3 linked regions of the Homo sapiens genome follow. The protein of the gene in region 3 interacts with the protein of the main gene of each other region in a biochemical or structural test. Each region holds a gene or a part of one and is shown on either strand. Other genes may lie near its edges.

Region 1 (7,160 bases), on a different chromosome or scaffold from region 3:
TAGATCATCACAATGCAAGGAGAAAGGTGGAAGGGAGGAGACAGGGCGAGGAAAAATAAGCGATAAAAAGCTTCAGATTTCAGTTAGGGGCTGGCAGTCCCTTTTATCTTTTCAAGTATCACACAATATGTACCAAATACAATCTGTAAATAATGGCCATTTCTTCCCAAGCCCACAGCCAAGATGAGTGTTAGGCTAAATTCAGAGCCCTGGCTCTTCCTCAGATGAGTGGAAAACCTGCGCATGACAGGGCCGGCTCCCCCTTCTCAAAGGGCTTCCTCCCACTCATCCCATCCCTAACAGAATCGCCGAGGTGTTCACGGGCCAGAGAAAGCACAAACATGGATTCAGAAGTCCAAAGAAATGCAGTTCGTTGCGCCCAATCAGAGATAGATGATTTCATTCAACAAGGCTGGAAGCCCAGTTGGGAAGTCGATAAAAAATCTTGCTAACTTTTTTAAATGGCTTTTACTTTTCTAAGTCACTGAAACAAGGAAGGGCCACATGCCATTTAAAATCAAACACTAGTTCCCAGAGACTTGGTGTCCAGAAACTTGACCCACAGAGGCTAGCGGAGGATCTGTCTTTCATGATTCTCAGCCATCCCAACGGGAGGCCTAACATAAAGCATGTGCCAGGCCAATGCCAACTAGGACTTCAGGGGGCCTTTGGAGGGAAAAATTCCTTTGAGAGGAGACATTCCTCAGGAGCTTAGATCAGCCAGCTGGCAGTCAGAACAGCTTTTGAAGTGGATGAGAAATGTTAGGTACTGGAGAGATGATATGGCAACTCCTGATAATGACCTCACTAGGATAAAATGCTGGTTGAAACTGCACAGTAACCTCAAGGAGGGTGATGAAATTGACGACAAAGCCAAATGTCAGTGTCTAAGATGGCTACCACTGACCCTGTGCCCAAAAGCCCCCCGGTGCTGGGGCTTCCAGAGGGAGCCCAAGGGTGGTGGATTCAATGTTGCCAGGTTGCAACCATCTTGCTTGTTGGTGTTTGGCAAGAGCTTGAGCTCAGTTATGTGAACAGGGGCAAAGAATGGCTTGTGCTGGTAAAACTCAAGGGAGGATCCAAAAACTATGGGCACTAAAAAGGGGAGGGAAACCGCCAGAAGTGGCTCTGACCTGCTGCCGCTGCCACCACCTCTAAAGCCAAGAATGTAGAGCCTCTGCCCAGGGATCTGGATGCTCTCCTGAGTGTTGGAAGGGCAGCCTGGAAAGGCATTTGGTGGTGAAACACCGCTGCTCCAGACTTACGCTACCATCTATTGTTGGGGGCCCAGAGTCCTTGGATTCACTGCCAGGCCTTCTTCCAGATCTTTCTGTACCTGTGTGTTTGGGCTCCTACTCCCACCTCTCCCAGGCGCAGGGAGAGGACAAAAAGCATAAGGGACTCTGTTCAACCCAGCAAAAGTCAGTTTCCCAGTGGAGAGGCAAAGCCCCACCCAGAACATAAACATGCATGGGACCAAGGTTAGTGCCCAGACAGGACAGACTTGCACAGAACAAGAGGGCACAGTGGGATCCATGCGGCAATTACAGGAGCTTCCAGCACTAACAGAGGAGCCTTATCCCACCTTCATCACACACACTTAGATGGACACACACACACTCTCGCTCACACTCTCACACATGTGCACACATACACACACTCTCTCTCTCTGCAGCCACACTCAAATCTGCTAAACTCCTACAACCTCCCCCAGCAGGTCATTTGACAATTCTGCATCTTCCGCTCTCTGGTGCTGGGGCTCTGGTCAGAGGCGAGCCAATGTCTTATCATTAGAGAGATGTGGGATTAGGTAAGGGGCAGAGTCATGGCACTGCTCACACACCTTCCCGAAACTGGGGTCTATTCAGTTTTTTGACAAGATCAAAAGCAATTCTTAACTGGTCATTATTTTTTTTTAAGGTAATTAGAACACTATTGTTTATACAATATTGAAAAAATACAATTTTTTATTGTTTGAACTCAAATCACCACCCAGCACTTTAAGCCTACCCTAAATAGCACCTACAATAAATGTCATAGCACAAGCAAACTGCAAAGTCAGCAGGTAAGCAAGTTAGACAGTGCCAGCAGAGAGACCCTCCCTCCCCCAAAGCAATGAGAAGACAGCGTGCTAGGTAAGAGTGAAGTACACCATTACATGTTAAATAGTTAATACTACCCTTCCAGCAAGCCACAGATGCTAGATGGATAACTCAGTACGGTTAACTAACCACAGCCCTACATCACTGCACTTTTTTTTTTTTTTAAAGAAAACCTTTTGCTTCATGCCCGTAATTAACATAAAGTAAGTAAATTCTTTGTCTTTTTATTTAGGAAAATAATCATGCTAAAAGCAAGTTGTACTTTATATAGATTTTCAAACAAAAGATTGATTGTGCTTTTTGAATAAAAAAGATAGGGTATCTTCCAACCTCACTGACTTAAACCTTGTGGAATACAGCACTTCTAAACTAAAAACACACGTCAAAAAGAAAAATTAAATAATCCCAGTGGGATGCTCAAAAATCGTCTTTAGAAGGTTTTAGGATTGGCTAATTCTGCTATTATCTTATTGGCTGCGGCAAAAAAAGAACACAGAGCTGCTGTCTAAAATTTCTCCAAACTCCCCTCCGAGTTCAGCAGGCAACACTCAGATTTGAAAGAAACTCTGCAGCAACCTGGACATATGGTTAGCTGAGTCGACATTTGATTAGCAGGCATTTTAAACTGATTTCCTCTTAACATACGCAGGAGAGAAAACATTTTCTTCCTGCAGGGCATGTTCTACTACATCATATTTCTGAATCCCTTCTTCCTATTCGGTCACTCTCTGAAAAAAGCTGGTTTGTTTTTCCCATGTAGAATCACTCTGGGTACAAGAACCTTTATTTGTTCCAATTATTATTTGTTTTAAATTTAGAACCTGTGTTGGGTCTAAAATACCCATTTCCCACTCCCACAAGCAGATGATGACCAGGCTGCTGCCAAGAGCAGCAGAAAAAGGGAAAACCAAACCAGAACATGAAGGCAAGTACCCAGGGCTTTGCAGTCACCACGTGGGTCGTCTTCTCAAGTCTAATGGTCCATGAGCGGCTTGTCCAAGGAGGCGGCCGCCTCTTGGTAGGTGAAGATGAAATCTGCAACCTTTCTAAGCACAATACACACACACACACACCAAAAAAATAACCCCCCCAGAAACACAACCCTCATATTTAAAGCTCTTAAGTTCAGGGTAGCGGTCTCAAACTGCCAAACACTAGGATGAGGATGTGACTCTGCATGTGTTTTGGATGAGAGGAAGCATCGTCCCAGTCACTTTTCTCCTCCTGTGCTGTCCTTTCAAAAACAGGTCTGGATTTCACGCTCTACCCCAAGAAAAAGAACTGGTTCAGAAAACACTTCCCCAAGTTTCTCCAACAGAACACTGTGGCTGCAGGGCCTGGTAGTGTGAAGGGCAGCAACTGACATATAAAAATGTACTTAAAATCAGAGTCAAAAAATGGTTTTAAGTTTTAATACTCTTAATTAGCTCCCTGCTTTATACTGTAACTCCACAGAAGACATAGGGCCACCTAGGATTCACAGGAAGGAGCAGCTCTGATTCTTACATGGCTGGCTCCGATGCCCCCACAGCAGGCCTCTTCCTCCCCAAGTTTTTCCTCTCCATTTCAAAAAAGCACTATTTTATCTTCACATCCAAGAGCTGGTTGGTTTGGTTTGTTTCTTTGGAAACCAATAAAAGAAGCAATTTTTTCCTGTTCTTTTTACTCACATCTACCTATCAGAGCGGCTATTTCCTTCGACAGTTCAGTAGCACACAGGCTGACTTGGCCACATGGACTCATGAATGCATGCATTCAGACCGCATATTGCTACCAAATGGAATGTGGGAATATGCTATGCACCTCAGGTTGAGAAATGACCAAGAAATCAAGATCTAAAGGGTGATATATAATATATATATATCAATGCTATTATTCATAAAAACCTTGTTTAGTAATAAAAAAAATTGCTTTGTTTAAATATGAATATTATAGTCTGCTTCTCATGGTTAGGAAATAATAGTCTTTCTGAAAAGCAGGTGCTTTTTCTACTACAACTCCATATCCTGGGCCTCATCTTCGGAAAAGTCAGACATAGAGCTCTCCGATGAGCTGTCCCCGGTACCCTCTTCCTGTTCTTTCAGCGCCTCCTCCGTGGCGTATTTCTGGATGTACTCTGCACGGGGTGGGAGAAAGACAACAAGGGCAGTGAGTGGGCAGGCATGTGCTTTGGCGACCCCAAAAAGCTGGCAAGGCTGCGGAGGTTCAAACTTACCTTGAACACCAGGGGGGACAAAGATGACAGTAATCATGATCACTACAGCTAAGGAGAATCCCATAGGGAGACTTCTTTGGGACAGGGTTTCTGCATTTTGCCCCCTGAGGAAAGGGGTATTGGGAAGAGCAACACAGCAGGCTCAGCTTGCAGGGGAATGTGTGTGCTGCAGCACCCCAAGAACTCTTCAGGGACCAGGGAAATGGGAGCCCCACGCTTTCTTTTTACTTTCATCTCCCAGATAGTATAGGACCAGTCATGATTCCATAGTAATTTATAAGGAAATCCTTCATCATTTTTAGATCTGCAGTTACATAATTACGGTCAGTCCAGGTCTATTATTTTAGGAATCGATTTTAGTCTAAACAGATCCTGCCTGTCAGGTTTTTGAAGCAGCTGGCAAAAACCATCGCTCAATCTGCTCAGGACTAAGCTGCTATACGGAGACACCACTCGGCTCTGAGTGGTTTTTCCATGTATAATTTACCTGAAGGTAGATTTCCGCTGCTACAGCCTTGGTGGAACCCTAGGCTGAATAAGACTGCTGAAACGGCTTTTAAGAACTGCTGAATAAACAAACTTGTTCCTAAAAACTCTAAGTGCATACTGTTTTCAAGTGAACAGCCTCCACACAATAGGAAAAGACATGACAGAAACCTATTCAAAATGCAAGCCACACAAAAACACACCCTTGTGGCTTTGTTTTTCCTCCTATAGAGTTGCGGGGACTCACTGCAATAGGAAGATAAGCTGAATGGCCAAATGGGCCTACCAGATTTGAATAACTAGCACAGGGCCTAGCTAAGAATGTTTTTATATTTTAAAAACTGTCTTAAAAAATAATAAACAGAATGTGTGATAAAGGCCACATCTGGCCAATGTGGTCCTTTACAGAAAAGGTTTGCAGACTTGAGACTTAGAGCCCTTCAAATTCATTATAACAAAATTTTATGCTAATGATTTTGATGAGATTAAAGTAGCCCATGATTAGGTAGGAATTTACCTTAATTGAGAAATATTTATTCAAACTTTAACAATTTTATTTTTAACCTCTAATGGGTTGACTATTTTGCGTCTTCCTTTGTAGAAGATAAATATTGACCTTTTTTTGACACTAGAATTTGATACTATCAGCCCTCTTTAATGTATTCAAGGAAACAAATGTATATTAAGTACTTACTAGGACAAGGCCTTTGAGAGAGAGAAAGGAAGAGCAAGGTCACCAATGAGGAGGAGGAAACAGAGGAAGATAAAAGGAGCTGCTGAGTGTCACCAGAGGGAAGCAGTTACGGACGAAAAACGGCCGAGGCAGTCCCAGCCACACTGACCCCCAAGTCCTGCCAGCTATGGCATAGGAGAGGCCACTCCAGGGAAAGGCTTTGTTTTGTTGAAAGTAAGTGGCTGGGATGTTTAAACACAACCTTAAGAGAGAACTATGGCCAGGTGCAGCGGCTCATGCCTGTAAACCCAGCACTTTGGGAGGCCAAGGCGGGTATATCACCTGAGGTTAGGACTTCGAGACCAGCCTGGCCAACATGGTGAAACCCCATCTCTACAAAAATACAAAAAACTAGCTGGATGTGGTGGCACATGCCTGTAATCCCAGCTACTCGGGAGGCTGAGGAAGGAGAATCACTTGAACCCGGGAGGCAGAGGCTGCAGTGGGCCGAGATCGCACCACTGCACTCCAGCCTAGGCGACAGGGCAAGACTCCGTCTCAAAAAAAAAAAAAAAAAAAAAAAAAAAAAAAAGGAGTAAGGGCAAAGATGTAGATTCCACTCAGTATCAGAGAGCCCTGAATGGCAGGCAAAGATGTCACCCAGCAAAGGGTTTTGAGCAGGGAAGTGACAGCTTTAGACAGCTCCAATGGTGCCCAGTGCTACGGGCTATCCAATATTTAAACACTTTTTCAAACATGTACTATAATACAGCGCCAACTAAATATGAACACTGACTGTGTTAGCTGTGTTGGGTTGGTGGTGACTGCCACACAAATGGAAATGTCCAGCAGCAGCTTGGGAGAGAGGCCAGGCCTAGACACACATTCAGAAATCATCTCCCTGGAGGGGACTGACTGAAGCTGTGAGAGGTGAAACAGCTCCTCAGGGATGACAAAGGAAGAGAGGGAGCCCAGGGACCGAGTCCTAAGTGAATGACCACATTTAGGAAATGGAATGAGAAGTTTCCAGAAAGATGAGGGTAAAATGTAACACTTGCAGAAAGGTCCAGCAAAATGGGACTTGAGAAGAGTCCAAAGGATTGGGAAGAAATGAGGGCACAGATTAAGCAGAGGAGGGGAAAAAAACTAGAGGAGTTTAAGGTGAGGACGCAAGAAGTTTGAAAATGAAAAGGAATAAACAGCATGACTCCTAAGAGAGCCCACAGGAGCAGATCACTGCTCCTGAAACAGGGAGACCTCTGATGGGGTGGAGGAGGAAGACTGCATTGGGAGGGGGCGGGGGGTTGGGGGAACAAGATCACAGATTGGTGGTGGGAGTGAGTTTGAGAAATGAGGAAGGGTGTCTCTTATTTATTTCCTATAGTTAGGAACAAAGAAAAGATGCAGGAGGGAAGGGAGAAGATATCAAGGCACAGTAGGAAGTGGGGGTGAGCTCAGGTCTGATGGCCATGATTTTCTGAGATTACTAAGGAAGACAAAATGATAGCCAACATGAACATTTCCGAAGGCTAGGGGTCCGTACGCTGGAGTGAGCCATTCTAAGATAAATGTAGGCTCGGTTCTTTTTGTAAATGGGACTATAGCAGACATGTACTGAAACAGGGCTACTGCTAAATTGTTGAGACAGAATGCATATGTGAACTAGAGAAATATACTCTGCTCC
Region 2 (7,000 bases), on a different chromosome or scaffold from region 3:
TTCCATGCCTGTTCTTATTCCCGTTGCTTCAGGTGTGATCACTGAAATGAAATGATCTTCCTTTGGCTTGGCTTCTGTTTCTGAACAAATAATAATTGTTACATGAGTTTGGTTATTGTTGGGAAGAGCCAGCATGAGTAAAGGGGTAGAGATAGGAACAAACTACAGATGGAATTTTCTTGGATGGATTCCAGTTAATAAATATTTGGATTTACATATGACAAATTGGAACATGCTTCTTGAGTTGACAAAAAGAGTTGCAGTAAATTTGCTTAATAGAAAGTGTTTCATGGGCCAGGTGCGGTGGCTCATACCTGTAATCCCAGCACTTTGGGAGGCTGAAGTGGGAGGATTGCTTGAGGCCAGGAATTTGAGACCAGCCTGGGCAAAATAGTGAGACTCTGTTGCTTCAAAACCCTTTTGAAAAATTAACTAACCAGGCATGGCGCCATGCGCCTATAATCTTAGCTACATGGGAGGATCTTTTGAGCCCAGGAGTTCGAGGCTGCAGTGAGCTATGATCGTGCTATTTCAGCCTGGGTGACAGAGTGACACCCTATCTCAAAAAAAAAAACTTTTTTTTATACGTCTATACTTTTTAAACACTTTTTTCTTTTTTTTTTTTGAGACAGAGTCTCGCTCTGTCACTTAGGCTGGAGTGCAGTGGTGCAATGTCGGCTCACTGCAGCCTCCACCTCCCGGATTCTTCTGCCTCAGCCTCCAGAGTAGCTGGGATTACAGGCCCCCGCTGCCACACCTGGCTAATATTTGTATTTTTAGTAGAGACGGGGTTTCACCATGTTGGCCAGGCTGCTGTCAAACTCCTGACCTCAGGTGATCTGCCCACCTCAGCCTCCCAAAGTGCTGGGATTACAGGCGTGAGCCACCGCATCAGGCCTTAAACATTTTAAAATGTAAACCTTTTGAAGAATTCACCTAACAGCAGATGGCTGGCTGGCTGGCTGCATTAAAACAGTAAGCACTTGAGGGTGAGGAAAAGGGGGTACTTTGTGCTCCCTTGTGGCCAAGTGACCCTAGCTTCCTGCTGCTCAGCTAGGCTGCTTGCCTTTTTTTTTTTTTTTTTTTTTTCTTTTTTTGCCACAGGACTTTCTCTTAATTTCCTTATATAACAAAGGGAATGCACTTGCAGGGGAGAAGGGCAGACAGGTAGTGGTACATGGTTTTTATCATTGTGAGTGGGTTTTCTAATCTGAACAAAGAAGGCCATCATGGTTAGGTGGTAATGAGAAGTTATGGGTAAAGGTGAGAGTAAAGTACTTAGCCACCCTAAGCTGCTGGAAATAAGCTGCTTAAGAATTTCCTGTTGGCTTGAGGCATTTGGTAATAAGCAAGCGTATTGTTATTTATTTGGCCTTTATGTAGTGGGTGATTTTAATCTCCTGGGCTAAAGTAGTGCCAGAATGTAATCCAGAATACTTGTTCCAGATTGCTATAAAAGTGTCATAAATATATTCAAATGACTTTGGAAGCCTTTGTTTTATGGAAATAAAATCTCTGTTTTGCTGTATGTTCTCAGCTTGTCCAACTGTCCGGTAGCTCAGTTAACCACATTTGACCTGTCATTCCTTTTCCCTTTTGAGGAGCAGTCTTGTTGGGAGGCTTTGGTTCCCTGATGTGAATTTCATTGTCTTGCAGGCCAAATGTGTGTGGAAACACCCACCTGGTGATGAGATATATCGCAAAGGTTCAATCTCTGTGTTTGAAGTGGATGGCAAGAAAAACAAGGTAAAAAGTGGTGACTTTAGAAAGGAGTTGAAATGTTGTATATTCACAGGTTTCAGAAGGCATATGTTTTTTCTCCATCACACCTTGTGAAGGACATAGAACTCTTCTCTTGCCAAAATACACAATGTGTTTCATTAATAATTATGGTATGTTTGTGAATTTTAGGCCTTTATCTGTTTAGGAATCAGTGGCCCACACATGAACTCTGTTTCTCTGCTTCCAGATCTACTGCCAAAACCTGTGCCTGTTGGCCAAACTTTTTCTGGACCACAAGACATTATATTATGATGTGGAGCCCTTCCTGTTCTATGTTATGACAGAGGCGGACAACACTGGCTGTCACCTGATTGGATATTTTTCTAAGGTAAGCAGGATCTGGAGATTAAGAAGCCAATGGCCAGAGCAGGGTGATCCATGTTCGCAGTTGGGGGCTCAAATCACTGACAGGAAGAAGCTGTACTCTGGGCAATGATGACACCCCTTCCTTAAATTAAAAAAAAAAAAAAGGCAAACCCATGTATCAAAGATTGTTTAATGAAAATGCAGTTTTTATTAAAAGCTTCTGGTTCATTCATTTCTAGAATTGTGGACTGGAGCTGCCTATTAATAACTGGCCAGAGCCCTCCCTAGTAACTCACAAGCCCACATCTTGTAGTCAAACCAGTTCTGCTGGCTTTGCCTGCCTCTATGTTATTAGCTTAAAACCAGGAATATACTCTTTTTGCCTGATTGTTTAGCTGGGCTCCTTCTAGCACAGTGCCTTCAGTGATAACACTACTGCGCCTTTTAAAGACCCAAGGCCAGATTTTTTTTTTTTTTCTGACAGAGTCTCACTCTGTTGCCCAGGCTGGAGTACAGAGGTATGACCTTGACTCACTGCACCCTCTGCCTCCCAGGTTCAAGTGACCCTCCTGCCTCAGCCTCCTGAGTAGCTGGGATAACAGGCGCCTGCCACCACGCCCAGCTAATTTTTTGTGTGATTTTAGTAGAGATGGTGTTTTACCATGTTGGCCAGGCTGGTCTCGAACTCCTGACCTCAAGTAATCCACTCGCCTTAGCCTCCTAAAGTGCTAGGATTACAGGTGTGAGCCATTGCGCCCGGCCTAAGTCATAAAAGTTTATGACTTTTAGTATAACAACTTTATTGAAATATAATTCATATACCATAAATTCACGCACTGAAAGGGTACAATTTAGTGGTTTATAGTGTATTCACAGAGTTGTGCAATCAACCCAGTTTGCATTATCCTGAAAAGAAATTGATAGCAATCACTCCTATTTCTACTCAATCCCTCTCAGTTCTTCTTTCTCTATAAATTTCCCTATTTTGGACGTTTCCTACAAGTGGAATCACACATTTTGATTTGATTCAATGTGATTTTTTTTTTAATCCCTTTGCAGAATGGGGACTTACAGTGGTGTTTCCTTCCCTTCTCTTCCAGTAGGCAGCTCCTTTTCAAAAATTGCGTTTAAAGTGGGCTTCTATATACTGAGTCAGCAGTCTTAAACTTCTTGCCCTACTCTGTGGCTGTCAGGAGCCCAGAGTCAGCCTCCTTAAAATGACACTGGAGGTCTCAACTAGGGAAATCCTGGGATGATTAATGGCTTTGGCCATGATAAAGGGTGTGGTTATAACAGCTGTGAGCCTGGCAGCCACTCCTTGGGACTGGTTAGCCAGATGTTTTGCAAGCAGCCTTATTTTGCATCTGTGGAAGTGCTGAAACCTTTGGTTTCAAATCCTCATGACGTGTTCATCTGTTTGCTCTTGATTTTAGGAAAAGAATTCATTCCTCAACTACAACGTCTCCTGTATCCTTACTATGCCTCAGTACATGAGACAGGGCTATGGCAAGATGCTTATTGATTTCAGTAAGTGAAACTGCTAAGTCATTAGTTCCACAAGGCAGGGACCATGTGAATATTGTTTGTCTTTTTGTCCTGTGGTCTCTGCAATTCCTGGAATATAGTGAAGGTACATGGATATTTAGTAAATGAATGAACAAGTAGGAAAAACCTGAACATTGTCATTCTGCCTAATACACATTGAACATTGAAGGAGTACAGGACTCCTCCTTAATGAGTAGGAGGTACAGAGGATGATAAAGTAAGCTCTTTAGGATTATCCCAGTTTGAGACTTTTAAACAGCACATACATGCATGAGGCTTAAAATCTGGTCCTTGATGCTAGGGATTTCACTTTTGTAGGGACTTGTCTAGAGGTAATCCATGTACCCAATGGACCCTGTGCATAATATACTCTGCCCTCATTAATTGTGGATTCTGTCTTTGTGAATTTGCTTACTCACTAAATTTTATTTGTAACCCCAAAATCAATCTTAACATTTTTGTGGTCATTCGTGAACATGCACAGAGCAGCAAAAAGTAAGAGTCATGGATGCACACATTCCCAGCTGACTTCAGAGTTTTCAGCTCTTACACTGTAAACAAGTTCATTTTCAGTCTGGGAATGCCACATGGTTTTCGCCTTCTGTTGATTTTAAATGGCCCCTATGAGTAGTACTGATGTGTCTGGTGTTCCTAATCTCAGGAATACCTGGGGTACCTTACAGGGGTTAGGTAGCTTTCTTCAGGTGAATTAGAGAGTTGCTGGCAGTGAGTTCAATGTTAATGATATCAACAGTGTATATTAAATAAGGCATTTTTAAACAGAAACATAAAATAAGTTTATGTATTGATGGTTGACCAATATGTGACCAGAGGCTTGCAGGAACCTAACCCTCCCTGTATTTCCCGTAGGAGTAGTGGTTCAATATTCACTAATTCAGGTTCTCAGTGACTTTATAAAACATAACTGCTGTGAATAACAAGACTCTACTGTGTGTTATTCTATATTTGATGTCCACTGTCATAGGACAGGGTATATTGTAATCAAAATTGGAATTCCTAGAATTAGCCTTCCAAGCCTTCTTTCTTTCTTTCTTTCTTTTTTGAGACGGAATTTTGCTCTTGTTGCCCAGGCTGGAGCACAATGGCCCAATGTTGGCTCACTGCAACCTCCGTCTCCCGGGTTCAGGCAATTCTACTGCCTCAGCCTCACGAGTAGCTGGGATTACAGGCATGTGCCACCACGCCCAGCTAATTTTGTATTTTTTTAGTGGAGACGGAGTTTCTCCATGTTGGTCAGGCTGGTCTCGAACTCCCGAGCTCAGGTGATCCGCCCACCTCAGCCTCCCAGAGTGCTGGAATTACAGGCGTGAGCCACCTTGCCCGGCCACCTTCTTTCATTTTTAAGTCACCTGAGAAGAGATGAACTGGGAAGTGACATAAGAGGGGAACTATATATCTTTGAATAGGTAACACTGTTCTTATAAACTTGATTTTATAGAAATTTTTAAGCATTAACAAAAGTATAATAAATGCTTCTATACCCATCACCCAGCTTCAGTAATTACCGTTTTTTGGGGGGCTAATCTTGTTTTACCTACATTTTCACTTGCCATTATTTTGGTATCTCTAAAAGATAAGGTCTATTACACCTTAAAAAAAAAAGTCCTTCATGTCATAAATTGTGATATTCAAATTTCCCTGGTGTGATTTTGTTCTTTTTTTTATTTTTATTTTTTTAATACTCAGATCCAGGTAGAATTGATAGTGGGATTGAGAAATGTGGCTCATAATTCACTTTTAGTCTAAAACTTTCCACTCCCATCATTTTTTTCTTGCTGTGTTTTTGTTGAAGAAAGCAGGTTAGTTGTCTAAAAGGGTTCCCCAGATTATGAACTTTGCACACTGCATCTCCATAGTGTTGTTTTATATATTTTGTATAAATTGAATGTTAGGTGTTTAGACTTTACAACTAGAGGCTTCATCATTTGGGTTTTTTACACCCCGCACTATCTCATAGGTGGTACTGAGCTAATCTGTTCTTACCATTCAAAGATTTAAAAAATACTTAAAAACTAGGTAGTGAAGTGGCTTCACATTTTTGTTTCTCATCTCCCTTGTTTCCAACACACACCTACAGAGATTCATTATCAAAATAATGGTGAAGGCTTCCAGAGTTCTTTTAGTGCCTATTACAGTAGTGCCCTCCTTATCTGCCATTTCACTTTCTGCAGTTTCAATTACCTGTAGTCAACTGCGGTCCAAAAATAGGTGAGTACAGTACAATAAGATATTTTGAGAGACAGACAACCTTCACATAACTTTTATTACAGTATATTGTTATAATTGTTCTGTTTTACTATTACTCTCTTCCTGTTCTTAATTTATAAGTTAAACTGTAGCATAGATATGTGTTGATAGGAAAATACATAGTATATATAGGATTTGGTACTACCCACAGTTTTGGGCCTCCACTGGGAGTTTTGGAACACATTCCCTGTGAATAAGAGGGGACTCCTGTGTCATGTAAATGCAAATACACATTCTTCCCCTTTTGTTTATACAAAGGCAGTATACTATAGTTAACCACACAGTATTCCATTGAATGACTAAATCCTAATGGAGTGGACTGTGCTTCTTAAACCTTCTTCCATGTTGGCACACAGTTTTTTGCTATTAGGATAAGATCGAGTGTTGCTAGAAAAAGTCTGTATTTGTTCCCTGGCAGGTTATTTGCTTTCCAAAGTCGAAGAAAAAGTTGGCTCCCCAGAACGTCCACTCTCAGATCTGGGGCTTATAAGCTATCGCAGTTACTGGAAAGAAGTACTTCTCCGCTACCTGCATAATTTTCAAGGCAAAGAGATTTCTATCAAAGGTTGGTTTTTGACTCCTTGGAATGGTTGATTGTTACCCAAGAAGTTAACTCTACTGGGTATTGTGTTTCCCCTGAATGTGAGAACGGAAGGCCCACTGAATATGGACCACTGCGGAGACCCTCACTAAAGCTGCCTAGGAATCCAAAGCATTTGGCCCCTGGGAATGGTTATTAATTGGCTTCTCAAATCCAGAGTTGCCAACACTTTAATTCTTATAAAAGTCAAGAAGCAAAACTTCAGATCGTTTGGTTCATCTTTCTGAGAAAGACATCCCTGTGTATTTATGCAAGGGTGGAACAATTTAGTTTGATCTATATTTGATCCTGATTTCTAAGGGGCCAAGAGTAGCTTCTTGCTGTAATATCCTTTTGTGGTTATTTGGACTGGTCAAATGAATACTTTGTAAACTCCTTCTAAACAGATTGGGTTGAGTACAGAAGATTCTGTCCATTTGGATTTCCTTTAAGGGAAAGTAGACCTTGGTTGGGGGCAAAGGGGTGGGAACCTGCACTTTGGCCAGGTTGTCAGTACTT
Region 3 (7,459 bases):
TACAGGCATGCGCCACCACGCCTGGGTAATTTCTTTTTTTTTTTTCTTTTTTTTTTGAGATGGAGTCTCGGTCTGTCACCCAGGCTGGAGTAGAGCGGCAAGATCTCAGCTCACTGCAAACTCCGCCTCCCGGGTTCAAGCAATTCTTCTGCCTCAGCTTACCAAGTAGCTGGGATGACAGGTATGCACCACCACGCCCAGCTAATTTTTGTATTTTTAGTAGAGACGGGGTTTCACCATGTTGGCCAGGCTGGTCTTGAACGCTTGACCTTGTGATCCGCCTGCCTTGGCCTCCCAAAGTGCTGGGATTACAGGCGTGAGCCACCGCGCCCAGCGAATTTTTATATTTAGTAGAGATGGGTTTTCACTATATTGATCAGGCTGGTCTCAAACTCCTGACCTCAAGTGATCCACCCGCCTCAGCCTCCCAAAGTGCTGGGAATACAGGTGTGAGCCACCACGCCTGGTTGAAAAATAAAAAGTTATTTTTTATCATTTAGTTATTAGAATTATTTTTAAAAACAACAATCTAAGCCCTCTTTAGTAACAAGACATTTTTGGCACAAAATTCCAAAAAAATTAAAGTACATGCAAATAAACTTTTAGGATACAACCCATTTTATCCAAGATTGCCCTTTTACAGTAAAAAAAAAAAAAATTCTTCTCTCTGGGTGCAGGCGCAGTGGCTCACGCCTATTATCCCAGCACTTTGGGAGAGCGAGGAGGGCGGATCGCTTGAGCTCAGGAGTTTGAGACCAGTCTGGGAAACACGGTGAAATCCTGTCTCTACAAAAAATATGAAAAATTAGTCAGGTGTGGTGGTTCATGCCTGTGTTCCCAGCTACTTTGGAGGCTGAGGTGGGGGAATTGCTTGAGGCCTGGAGGTGGAGGCTGCACTGAGCCATGTTGGGACCACTGAACTCCAGCCTGGGTGGCAGAGTGAGACCCTGATCTTGAAAAAAAAAAAAATTATCTCGTTGGAATGTATACCAACTGACAGTGGTATTTGCCAGTAAGAATTTCTTGCTCATTTCCCTAAAGGAATGAGATAATACAGGACTTTAGTGTATGCATCCCTTCATTTCAAATATGAACAATTCTGAATCTCTTATCAAGGCCTTATAATTCTTTACCTACAGAGAAGTAGATGAAATGACTAAGTAAACATTCAGAGGTTTAATCAAGTCTGGTTTCAAAATCAGGAATATGAATATAAATATCCAAATTTCTATTTCATAAAAACCCATTATTATGGAAGAAAATAATTAAACTGTTTATGACTACAGCAGAATGTACAGGATATATAGAATTGTAATTATCACCACGAACAGGAAAGACAAGAATCTTGATATTTCTATTACACTGAGTACCTTGTAGCTATTTTGTTGAATGTCTTTTCATCTCTGATAATAAGGTGTGAATTAAAAAGAACTATTCCAGAGACTAGGAAATGATGATCCGGAATGATTTGGCAAGGTAAGACAGTAAGTGACAGAGTGGAATCAGAAACTCGCTTTCCTAATTGCCAGCTTAGTACTTCTTATTCTAGGCTGTATTATCTGTGCTGCCGCAAGGCAAACCATATCATTGCCTTTCCCATTTTAGAAATAGGTTGTATAGGAGTTTCCTTTGTGGTCTGATGGCAAGAGACACCTATTATTTAAGAAATGCCAACTGCTGATCATTGATGACAAAATATTTTTACATGTTCCTTATGGATTCAAGTTGTCCGCCATTTCTTCAAATAATCATCACGTTTCTAAGTTTGGTAAGAAAATCAGAAATGACTGAATGTTAAAGAGAAAGGGGCCTTAGGCATTATTTTTCCTATCATCTCAGTGGGGAAACTAAAGCCCAAAGAGTCATATTGGGAGTTGGTGGGAGTCTCCTGACTTCTTGTCCAGGGCTATTTATAGCACATAGCACTGTTTCAGTGGATGAGTATTCTGAAGCCACGGCATAATTGAGACTCTGTACATGGCACCTTCACTCATGTTCAATGTGTCAGTGTGGGGAGTTTGTGTGCCATTTTATCCCTTTATTTTTGTCATCCATTTTATTCAATACTTTCGTTGGTGCCTGATGTTTTTGATAGAAAAAGCAAATAAAAGAGTAAGCAGCAAATGTGAGTTAAAAAAATTTTTTTTTTGAGACAGAGTCTCGCTCTGTCGCCCAGGCTACAGTGCAGTGGCGTGATCTCGGCACACTGCAAGCTCCTCCTGCCGGGTTCACGCCATTCTCCTGCCTCAGCCTCCCCAGCAGCTGGGACTACAGGCGCCCGCCACCACACCCGGCTAATTTTTTGTATTTTTAGTAGAGACGGGGTTTCACCGTGTTAGCCAGGATGGTCTGGATCTCCTGACCTCGTGATCCGCCCGCCTCTGCCTCCCAAAGTGCTGGGATTACAGGCATGAGCCACCGCGCCCGGTCGACAAAAATTTTCTTAACATGAATGCGTGAAGTAAGGCTGTTTGGAATTTAGAAAAGTTGCAATTTTTGATGGAGAGAAAACCAAGAAGGAGTTGAGTGATGGCCGAGGGAGTGGACAACCTCCTACTGCCAGGGCCTCTACTCCTGAACTGTTATGAGGTTGCCTGATTCCTCTTAACAACCCTTCAGGTTAGGGGCCAGCTGTTAACTTAATTTTATTACCAGGGAAGAAACTGAGGCTCAGATAAAGTTCTTTTATCCCACAGGCACACAAACTGCTAACTGATAGAGCCAGATCCAGCCATGTCTGGCTACAAAGCCTGTGTACTTTAACTTCTACAGAGAGTATGTGCGAGGTGAACCAGTAAAAATAACAATAACAAGTGCAATACTAAGAATAGTAATAATGATAGTTAACACAGTGCTTTACATGTGTGATCGCTTTGAACAGGATTAAGTGAACACATGAATAGGACTGGCAGGGAGTCTTTCTACTCTTCATTAGCGAAACAGGAGAGGACATATACAGTACTTAGGATTTCCACTGGCTTACTTTGTTTTCTGAAAAATAACTGAAAGGCTCAATTAGTTTTGTTTTGTCGCATTTATCAGATTATAACGTTCTGGATGTGGGTCTGGATGTGGGTAGTTGGGCTGGTGTGGGATTACATGAAATCAAACCTGATATATTCAGAAAGATTCTTCCGGTGGACACATATGCCTTTTGGGTTCGATATTCAATTTTGTAATTAGTGATCACTGTTCCTATTTATTTATTTATTTATTTGAGACGGAGTTTCGCTCTTATTGCCCAGGCTGGACCACAATGGCGCATTATCGGCTCATCACAACCTCCACCTCCCGGGTTCAAGCGATTCTCCTGCCTCAGCCTCCCCAGTAGCTGGGGTTACAGGCATGTACCACCATGCCCGGCTAATTTTGTATTTTTTAGTAGAGACAGGGTTTATCCATGTTGGTCAGGCTGGTCTTGAACTCCCGACCTCAGGTGATCCGCCCACCTAGGCCTCCCAAAGTGCTGGGATTACAGGCGTGAGCCACCGCGCCCGGCCTGAATGGGAGTTTTTAATCCGTACTTTTTTCTTATTGAAGTTGAATGTCATATACCCCTCTATTTCCCTAGATGAATCCATGAAAGAAGTATGTTGCCCTCTATATGAAAAAGCAAGCTTGTCTTCTGCAGAAAATCAGTAACCACTCCTTTTTACACATAAATACCCCCAAATGAATCTCCGATGACTGATCTGATACTAGTCTGCAATTCTAGTTTTAGCATTAGGCTCACTCCTCATATTTGGGAGAAGATGTCCAATTCTGTAGTAATGTGTAACATAAAGTGGTGTCAATTTATAAATAATATCTTCTAATGAATTAATGCTCATTTGCAATGATCACTTCCATACAAATTTAGGTAAAGATGTTATTCAGAATTGGATTCTCTCTATTTAAAAATGTCATCCTAATGTGCAACTCCCTAAAACTGTTACTACAAACAACTATTTTGCCACTCAGCCTAAAAATAAAACCTTTCACCCAAATGACACATCTTAATAGCCATATTTTAATCTACGTAATTTTAAACTATTCTGAAAGAATCCATTTCTAGATGTCAGACAAGAGTTGAAACTGGGACAGCAGTTTGAAGGGGCTAATTTAAAAACCCACTTGCTTGGAGACACCTCAAGAATTTCTAGGCTCACAAGGTGGGTGAAGTAAGGAAAGAGACTAAGAGCTGAACAGTGCCGTTCTTTGCGAGCCCCCACTGGCGCAGGCTGAGCCGGCTGCGGCTAGGGCTGCGAAGAGTTAACGAGGGACCGAGCCCCAGCGCCGCGGGCTCCCCGCATGCTCCCTCCGCCCTCCCGTCCCCACCCTCTCGTTTTGGCAAGGGATTAAAGTGCTCCCCCCTGTGGCAGCAGTGACCCAGAAATGAGTTTGATTCACATAGTCCTTCCTCCATAACAAGCCAAACGCCAGACCGAGAGTGCCTCCGTGCGCGAGTGCCCGGTGTGTGCGCGCCGGCGAGAGCAGGGGCCCGCCCGGCTCCCCGCCCGCCGCGGCCCGAACTCATGCAGCTCCGAGCGAGCGAGCGGCGCCCAGCCCAGCGCCTCGGCCGAACCCCTCCGCAGCAGGTACGCGCGCGGGCCGCGGGGGGCGCGCGGGGTGGGCGCGCCGCGCGTGTGTCCGCGCGTGTCCGCGTGTGGGTCCGTGTGCGCGTCCCGGTCCCGCGGCGGCGACGGCGGCGGCGGCGGCGGCGGCTGCAGGACGAGCCGAGAGGCTCAGCCATATTTGATGGTTTTGTTGCTTTGCTCGGGAGTTCTCGGGAGTAATTTAATGCCGAAGGTCGCTGCCTAGTGGAAATAATATAATACGTCATTAATATGGCGCCAAAAGATTGGGTTCTCGATCTGTAGCGAGGAGGGAGGGAGGCAGCCGCTGAGCGCAGCGTTACTATCCCACCAGTAACTTGGGCATTGCCGGGGCGGGGGCCGGAGGAGGAGGAGAGGATGATTTTTGGATCCTGAGAATTGATCTATGTTGGATCAGTAAGTTTTATTATGATTTTTTTTTTCAAATTTGGGGGGCTGAAGACTTAGAGCTATTTCTTCTTTTGGATTTGCGAAGAACATGCGGTTTTCAGGTGAATCATCAATTAAACGCGTTTAGGAGCAGAAGCCCAGTTTAAGTTGGCTTTAGTTTATAGGTTTTTTTTTTTTTTTTTTTTTTTTAGAAAGCCAAAGTGCATTAGGCTGCATGAAAGTGGAAAGCATAGTAGCAACTTGGTAGACAGATGGCAATGGCAGAACGCAGGTTCGCGTACATATATGAATCCAGAGTGTGTGAGACCGTGTGTGTGGTGGGACTGTATTTGTCCAAACATAGGTGTGCGTAGGTACATCTGTGTGTGGTGGCCGCAGCCCTGGCTCTTGTCACCGCGTCACCACATGTCCAAAATATTCATTGCATCAATTCAAGGGCAGTGAGAGGGGGGTGGGGGTGGGGGTGGAGGGACAGTTTGGCAATTAGATTCTTCCGAACTGGGCTTCCAGTGATCAGATCTTTTACTTACAGCGCGACTGCTTGTAAAGTGTAAAACCCCTTAATCGATGAAATGGGGTAGGAGTTGGCGTTGGTAGAGCAAAGTACCGATTAATCGTGAACTTAAAGGGGATTGCAAATTGCAACCTTTGGCACCATCTGCAAATTGTGGGGGTGGGGTCTCTTGGTCTCCTTGCTTCCTTAAATGAACGTGTAGTGTGTACCCCGGGACTGCAAGTTGCAGAGCCCTTCAGTGCACGTGTCTTGTGCCTGTGAGTCTGTGTTTGCGAGTTGGGGGCTGTTGTTCGGTAGCCAGCAGGCTTTCCGGGTTGCTCGGCATTGGCTTGCAAATGCGGGAGAGGGATGGAATGTGGAATGTTGACCGGGGAACCGAATCCTGTCGGAACGGTCCCATTTGCTGGAGAAATTCGATCCCTTCCACCTCCTTCCCGCTCCCCCCCGCCCGCCTTCGGGCAGGAGGCGGGGCTGAGGACGCGGCTGCTGCTCAAAGTGGCGGAGCGCGGCGGCGGGAGGCAGGTGCACGGCACCCGCCAGTGGGGGTGCCTCAACTTCCGCGGGCGTTTAAATAGCAGCCTCTCTCCCCTCCCACCGGTAATAGGTGACCTGGCGGCCGAGGGCGGCGGGGGAGGGAACCGGGGGAGACTCGGGAGCGAGCCTCCGCGGCACGTGGGCAGGTGCTGGGTGGCCCCGGGGCCAACTTTTGTAGCCCGCCTCTGGTGTTTGAGGAGAGGCGGCCCAGTGTGGAAATGGGGGCGGGCGGCGGCCGAGGCGCTGCTTCTCCGCTGCGGCCGGAGCGTCACCTAACGGTCCCAGCTGCGCCGCCCGGGCCGGGGTGGGGGGTTGCGGGGGCGGGGACGCCCGGCCCGCCGCGCCCGCCCCGCACAAAGCCCGCGGCGCGGGGGTGGCCGCTGCGCCCCCGCCCCGGGAACGGCCCGAAGCCCGACGCGGTCCCCGCGCCGGTTCCGGCGGGCGGCCGCAGGCGTTTGTTTGTTGGTTCCGCGCCGCCTTCCTCGCCGGATGGCTTCCTGTGACAGAGGTGATACACAGTTTCCAGAACTGTCTGGGGGCGGGAGCGGGAGCGGGAGCCGAGCCCGCTCGGAGCTCCTCGCCGCCGCTGCCGCTCCCATCTTAAAACCGTTTCTCGCCGGCGCGCCCGCCCCAGCCCGAAGGTGCCGCCCCGGAGGGACTCGGGGAGGGGGACGGCGCGGCCGTTTCCAGCGGCGCAAGTGGCTTCTGGACGCGAGGGAGCGTTTGATTTGCAACTGGGGCCGAGCGGATTGGTGCAGCTGGCGGCGGCGGGGCGGGAGGAGCTGCCGCGGCGGGGGGTGGCCACTTTCAAATGGAGAGGGCGGCGGCGGCGGGGACGCCGCTGCGGAGGGAGCGGGGCTTGGTTGCGCCACGAGAAGGTGTCATCACTGCACCGGGGCTAATTCCGGCGGAGGTGCCGGGAGTTACTTTCCCCTCCTCCCGCGCTGTTGTTTCTGTCGCCTCGGGAGGAGGAGGAGGAGGAGGATTGGGAGAGAGGGAGGGGTCGGCGCCGCGCGGAACCGCGGCCCTGCGCATTCCCCGGCGGGCGGCGGGAGCCGCGCGGAGCGTTCGCCGCTGCGGGGCGGCGGCCGAGCTCCCCCACAACCCCGGGGTGCCCCCCTTGCTGGGATCCTTAGCCTTCTCACGTCCCCTCTCACTCCGCCACCCTCCCACTAGAGCTCCTTATTCTCGAGTCCTCAACCCCGGCTTGGCGCGTCCCGGGTCTCCCCTCGCCCCAGGATTCCTCCCGCGCCAGGCTCCGCTGGCCCCAGGTTTCCCACCCCAAGCGGGTGGGGGCGGCCGCAGTCCCGGCGCCGGTGAATGCTGAGAGCAAACAAAAAAGCGGGCGATTTAAACATGCCTTCGAAACCCGTTAGGAATGCGTCGTCATCCGGAGACCGTTTAAAAGGAGCTTTAGCTTGCCTTC

What was found.
Region 1: the proteins of JADE1 (region 3) and UBE2H form a complex in vitro, tested with the Homo sapiens proteins (one study listed by BioGRID).
Region 2: the proteins of JADE1 (region 3) and KAT7 form a complex in vitro, tested with the Homo sapiens proteins (2 studies listed by BioGRID).

The regions. Positions count from the first base shown.
Region 1 is NC_000007.14:129,830,844-129,838,003, forward strand, and holds part of UBE2H (ubiquitin-conjugating enzyme E2 H), read right to left. Parts: intron 4,219-7,160; coding exon 4,094-4,218; 3' UTR 1-4,093. UniProt on the Homo sapiens protein: Accepts ubiquitin from the E1 complex and catalyzes its covalent attachment to other proteins. E2 ubiquitin conjugating enzyme that transfers ubiquitin to MAEA, a core component of the CTLH E3 ubiquitin-protein ligase complex.
Region 2 is NC_000017.11:49,819,681-49,826,680, forward strand, and holds part of KAT7 (histone acetyltransferase KAT7), read left to right. Parts: intron 1-1,656; coding exon 1,657-1,746; intron 1,747-1,969; coding exon 1,970-2,110; intron 2,111-3,521; coding exon 3,522-3,615; intron 3,616-6,319; coding exon 6,320-6,466; intron 6,467-7,000. UniProt on the Homo sapiens protein: Catalytic subunit of histone acetyltransferase HBO1 complexes, which specifically mediate acetylation of histone H3 at 'Lys-14' (H3K14ac), thereby regulating various processes, such as gene transcription, protein ubiquitination, immune regulation, stem cell pluripotent and self-renewal maintenance and embryonic development.
Region 3 is NC_000004.12:128,805,301-128,812,759, forward strand, and holds the start of JADE1 (protein Jade-1), read left to right. Parts: upstream 1-4,399; 5' UTR 4,400-4,577; intron 4,578-4,677; exon of another isoform or gene 4,678-5,073; coding exon of another isoform or gene 5,074-5,086; intron 5,087-5,969; exon of another isoform or gene 5,970-6,103; intron 6,104-6,384; exon of another isoform or gene 6,385-6,522; coding exon of another isoform or gene 6,523-6,541; intron 6,542-6,543; exon of another isoform or gene 6,544-6,674; intron 6,675-7,459.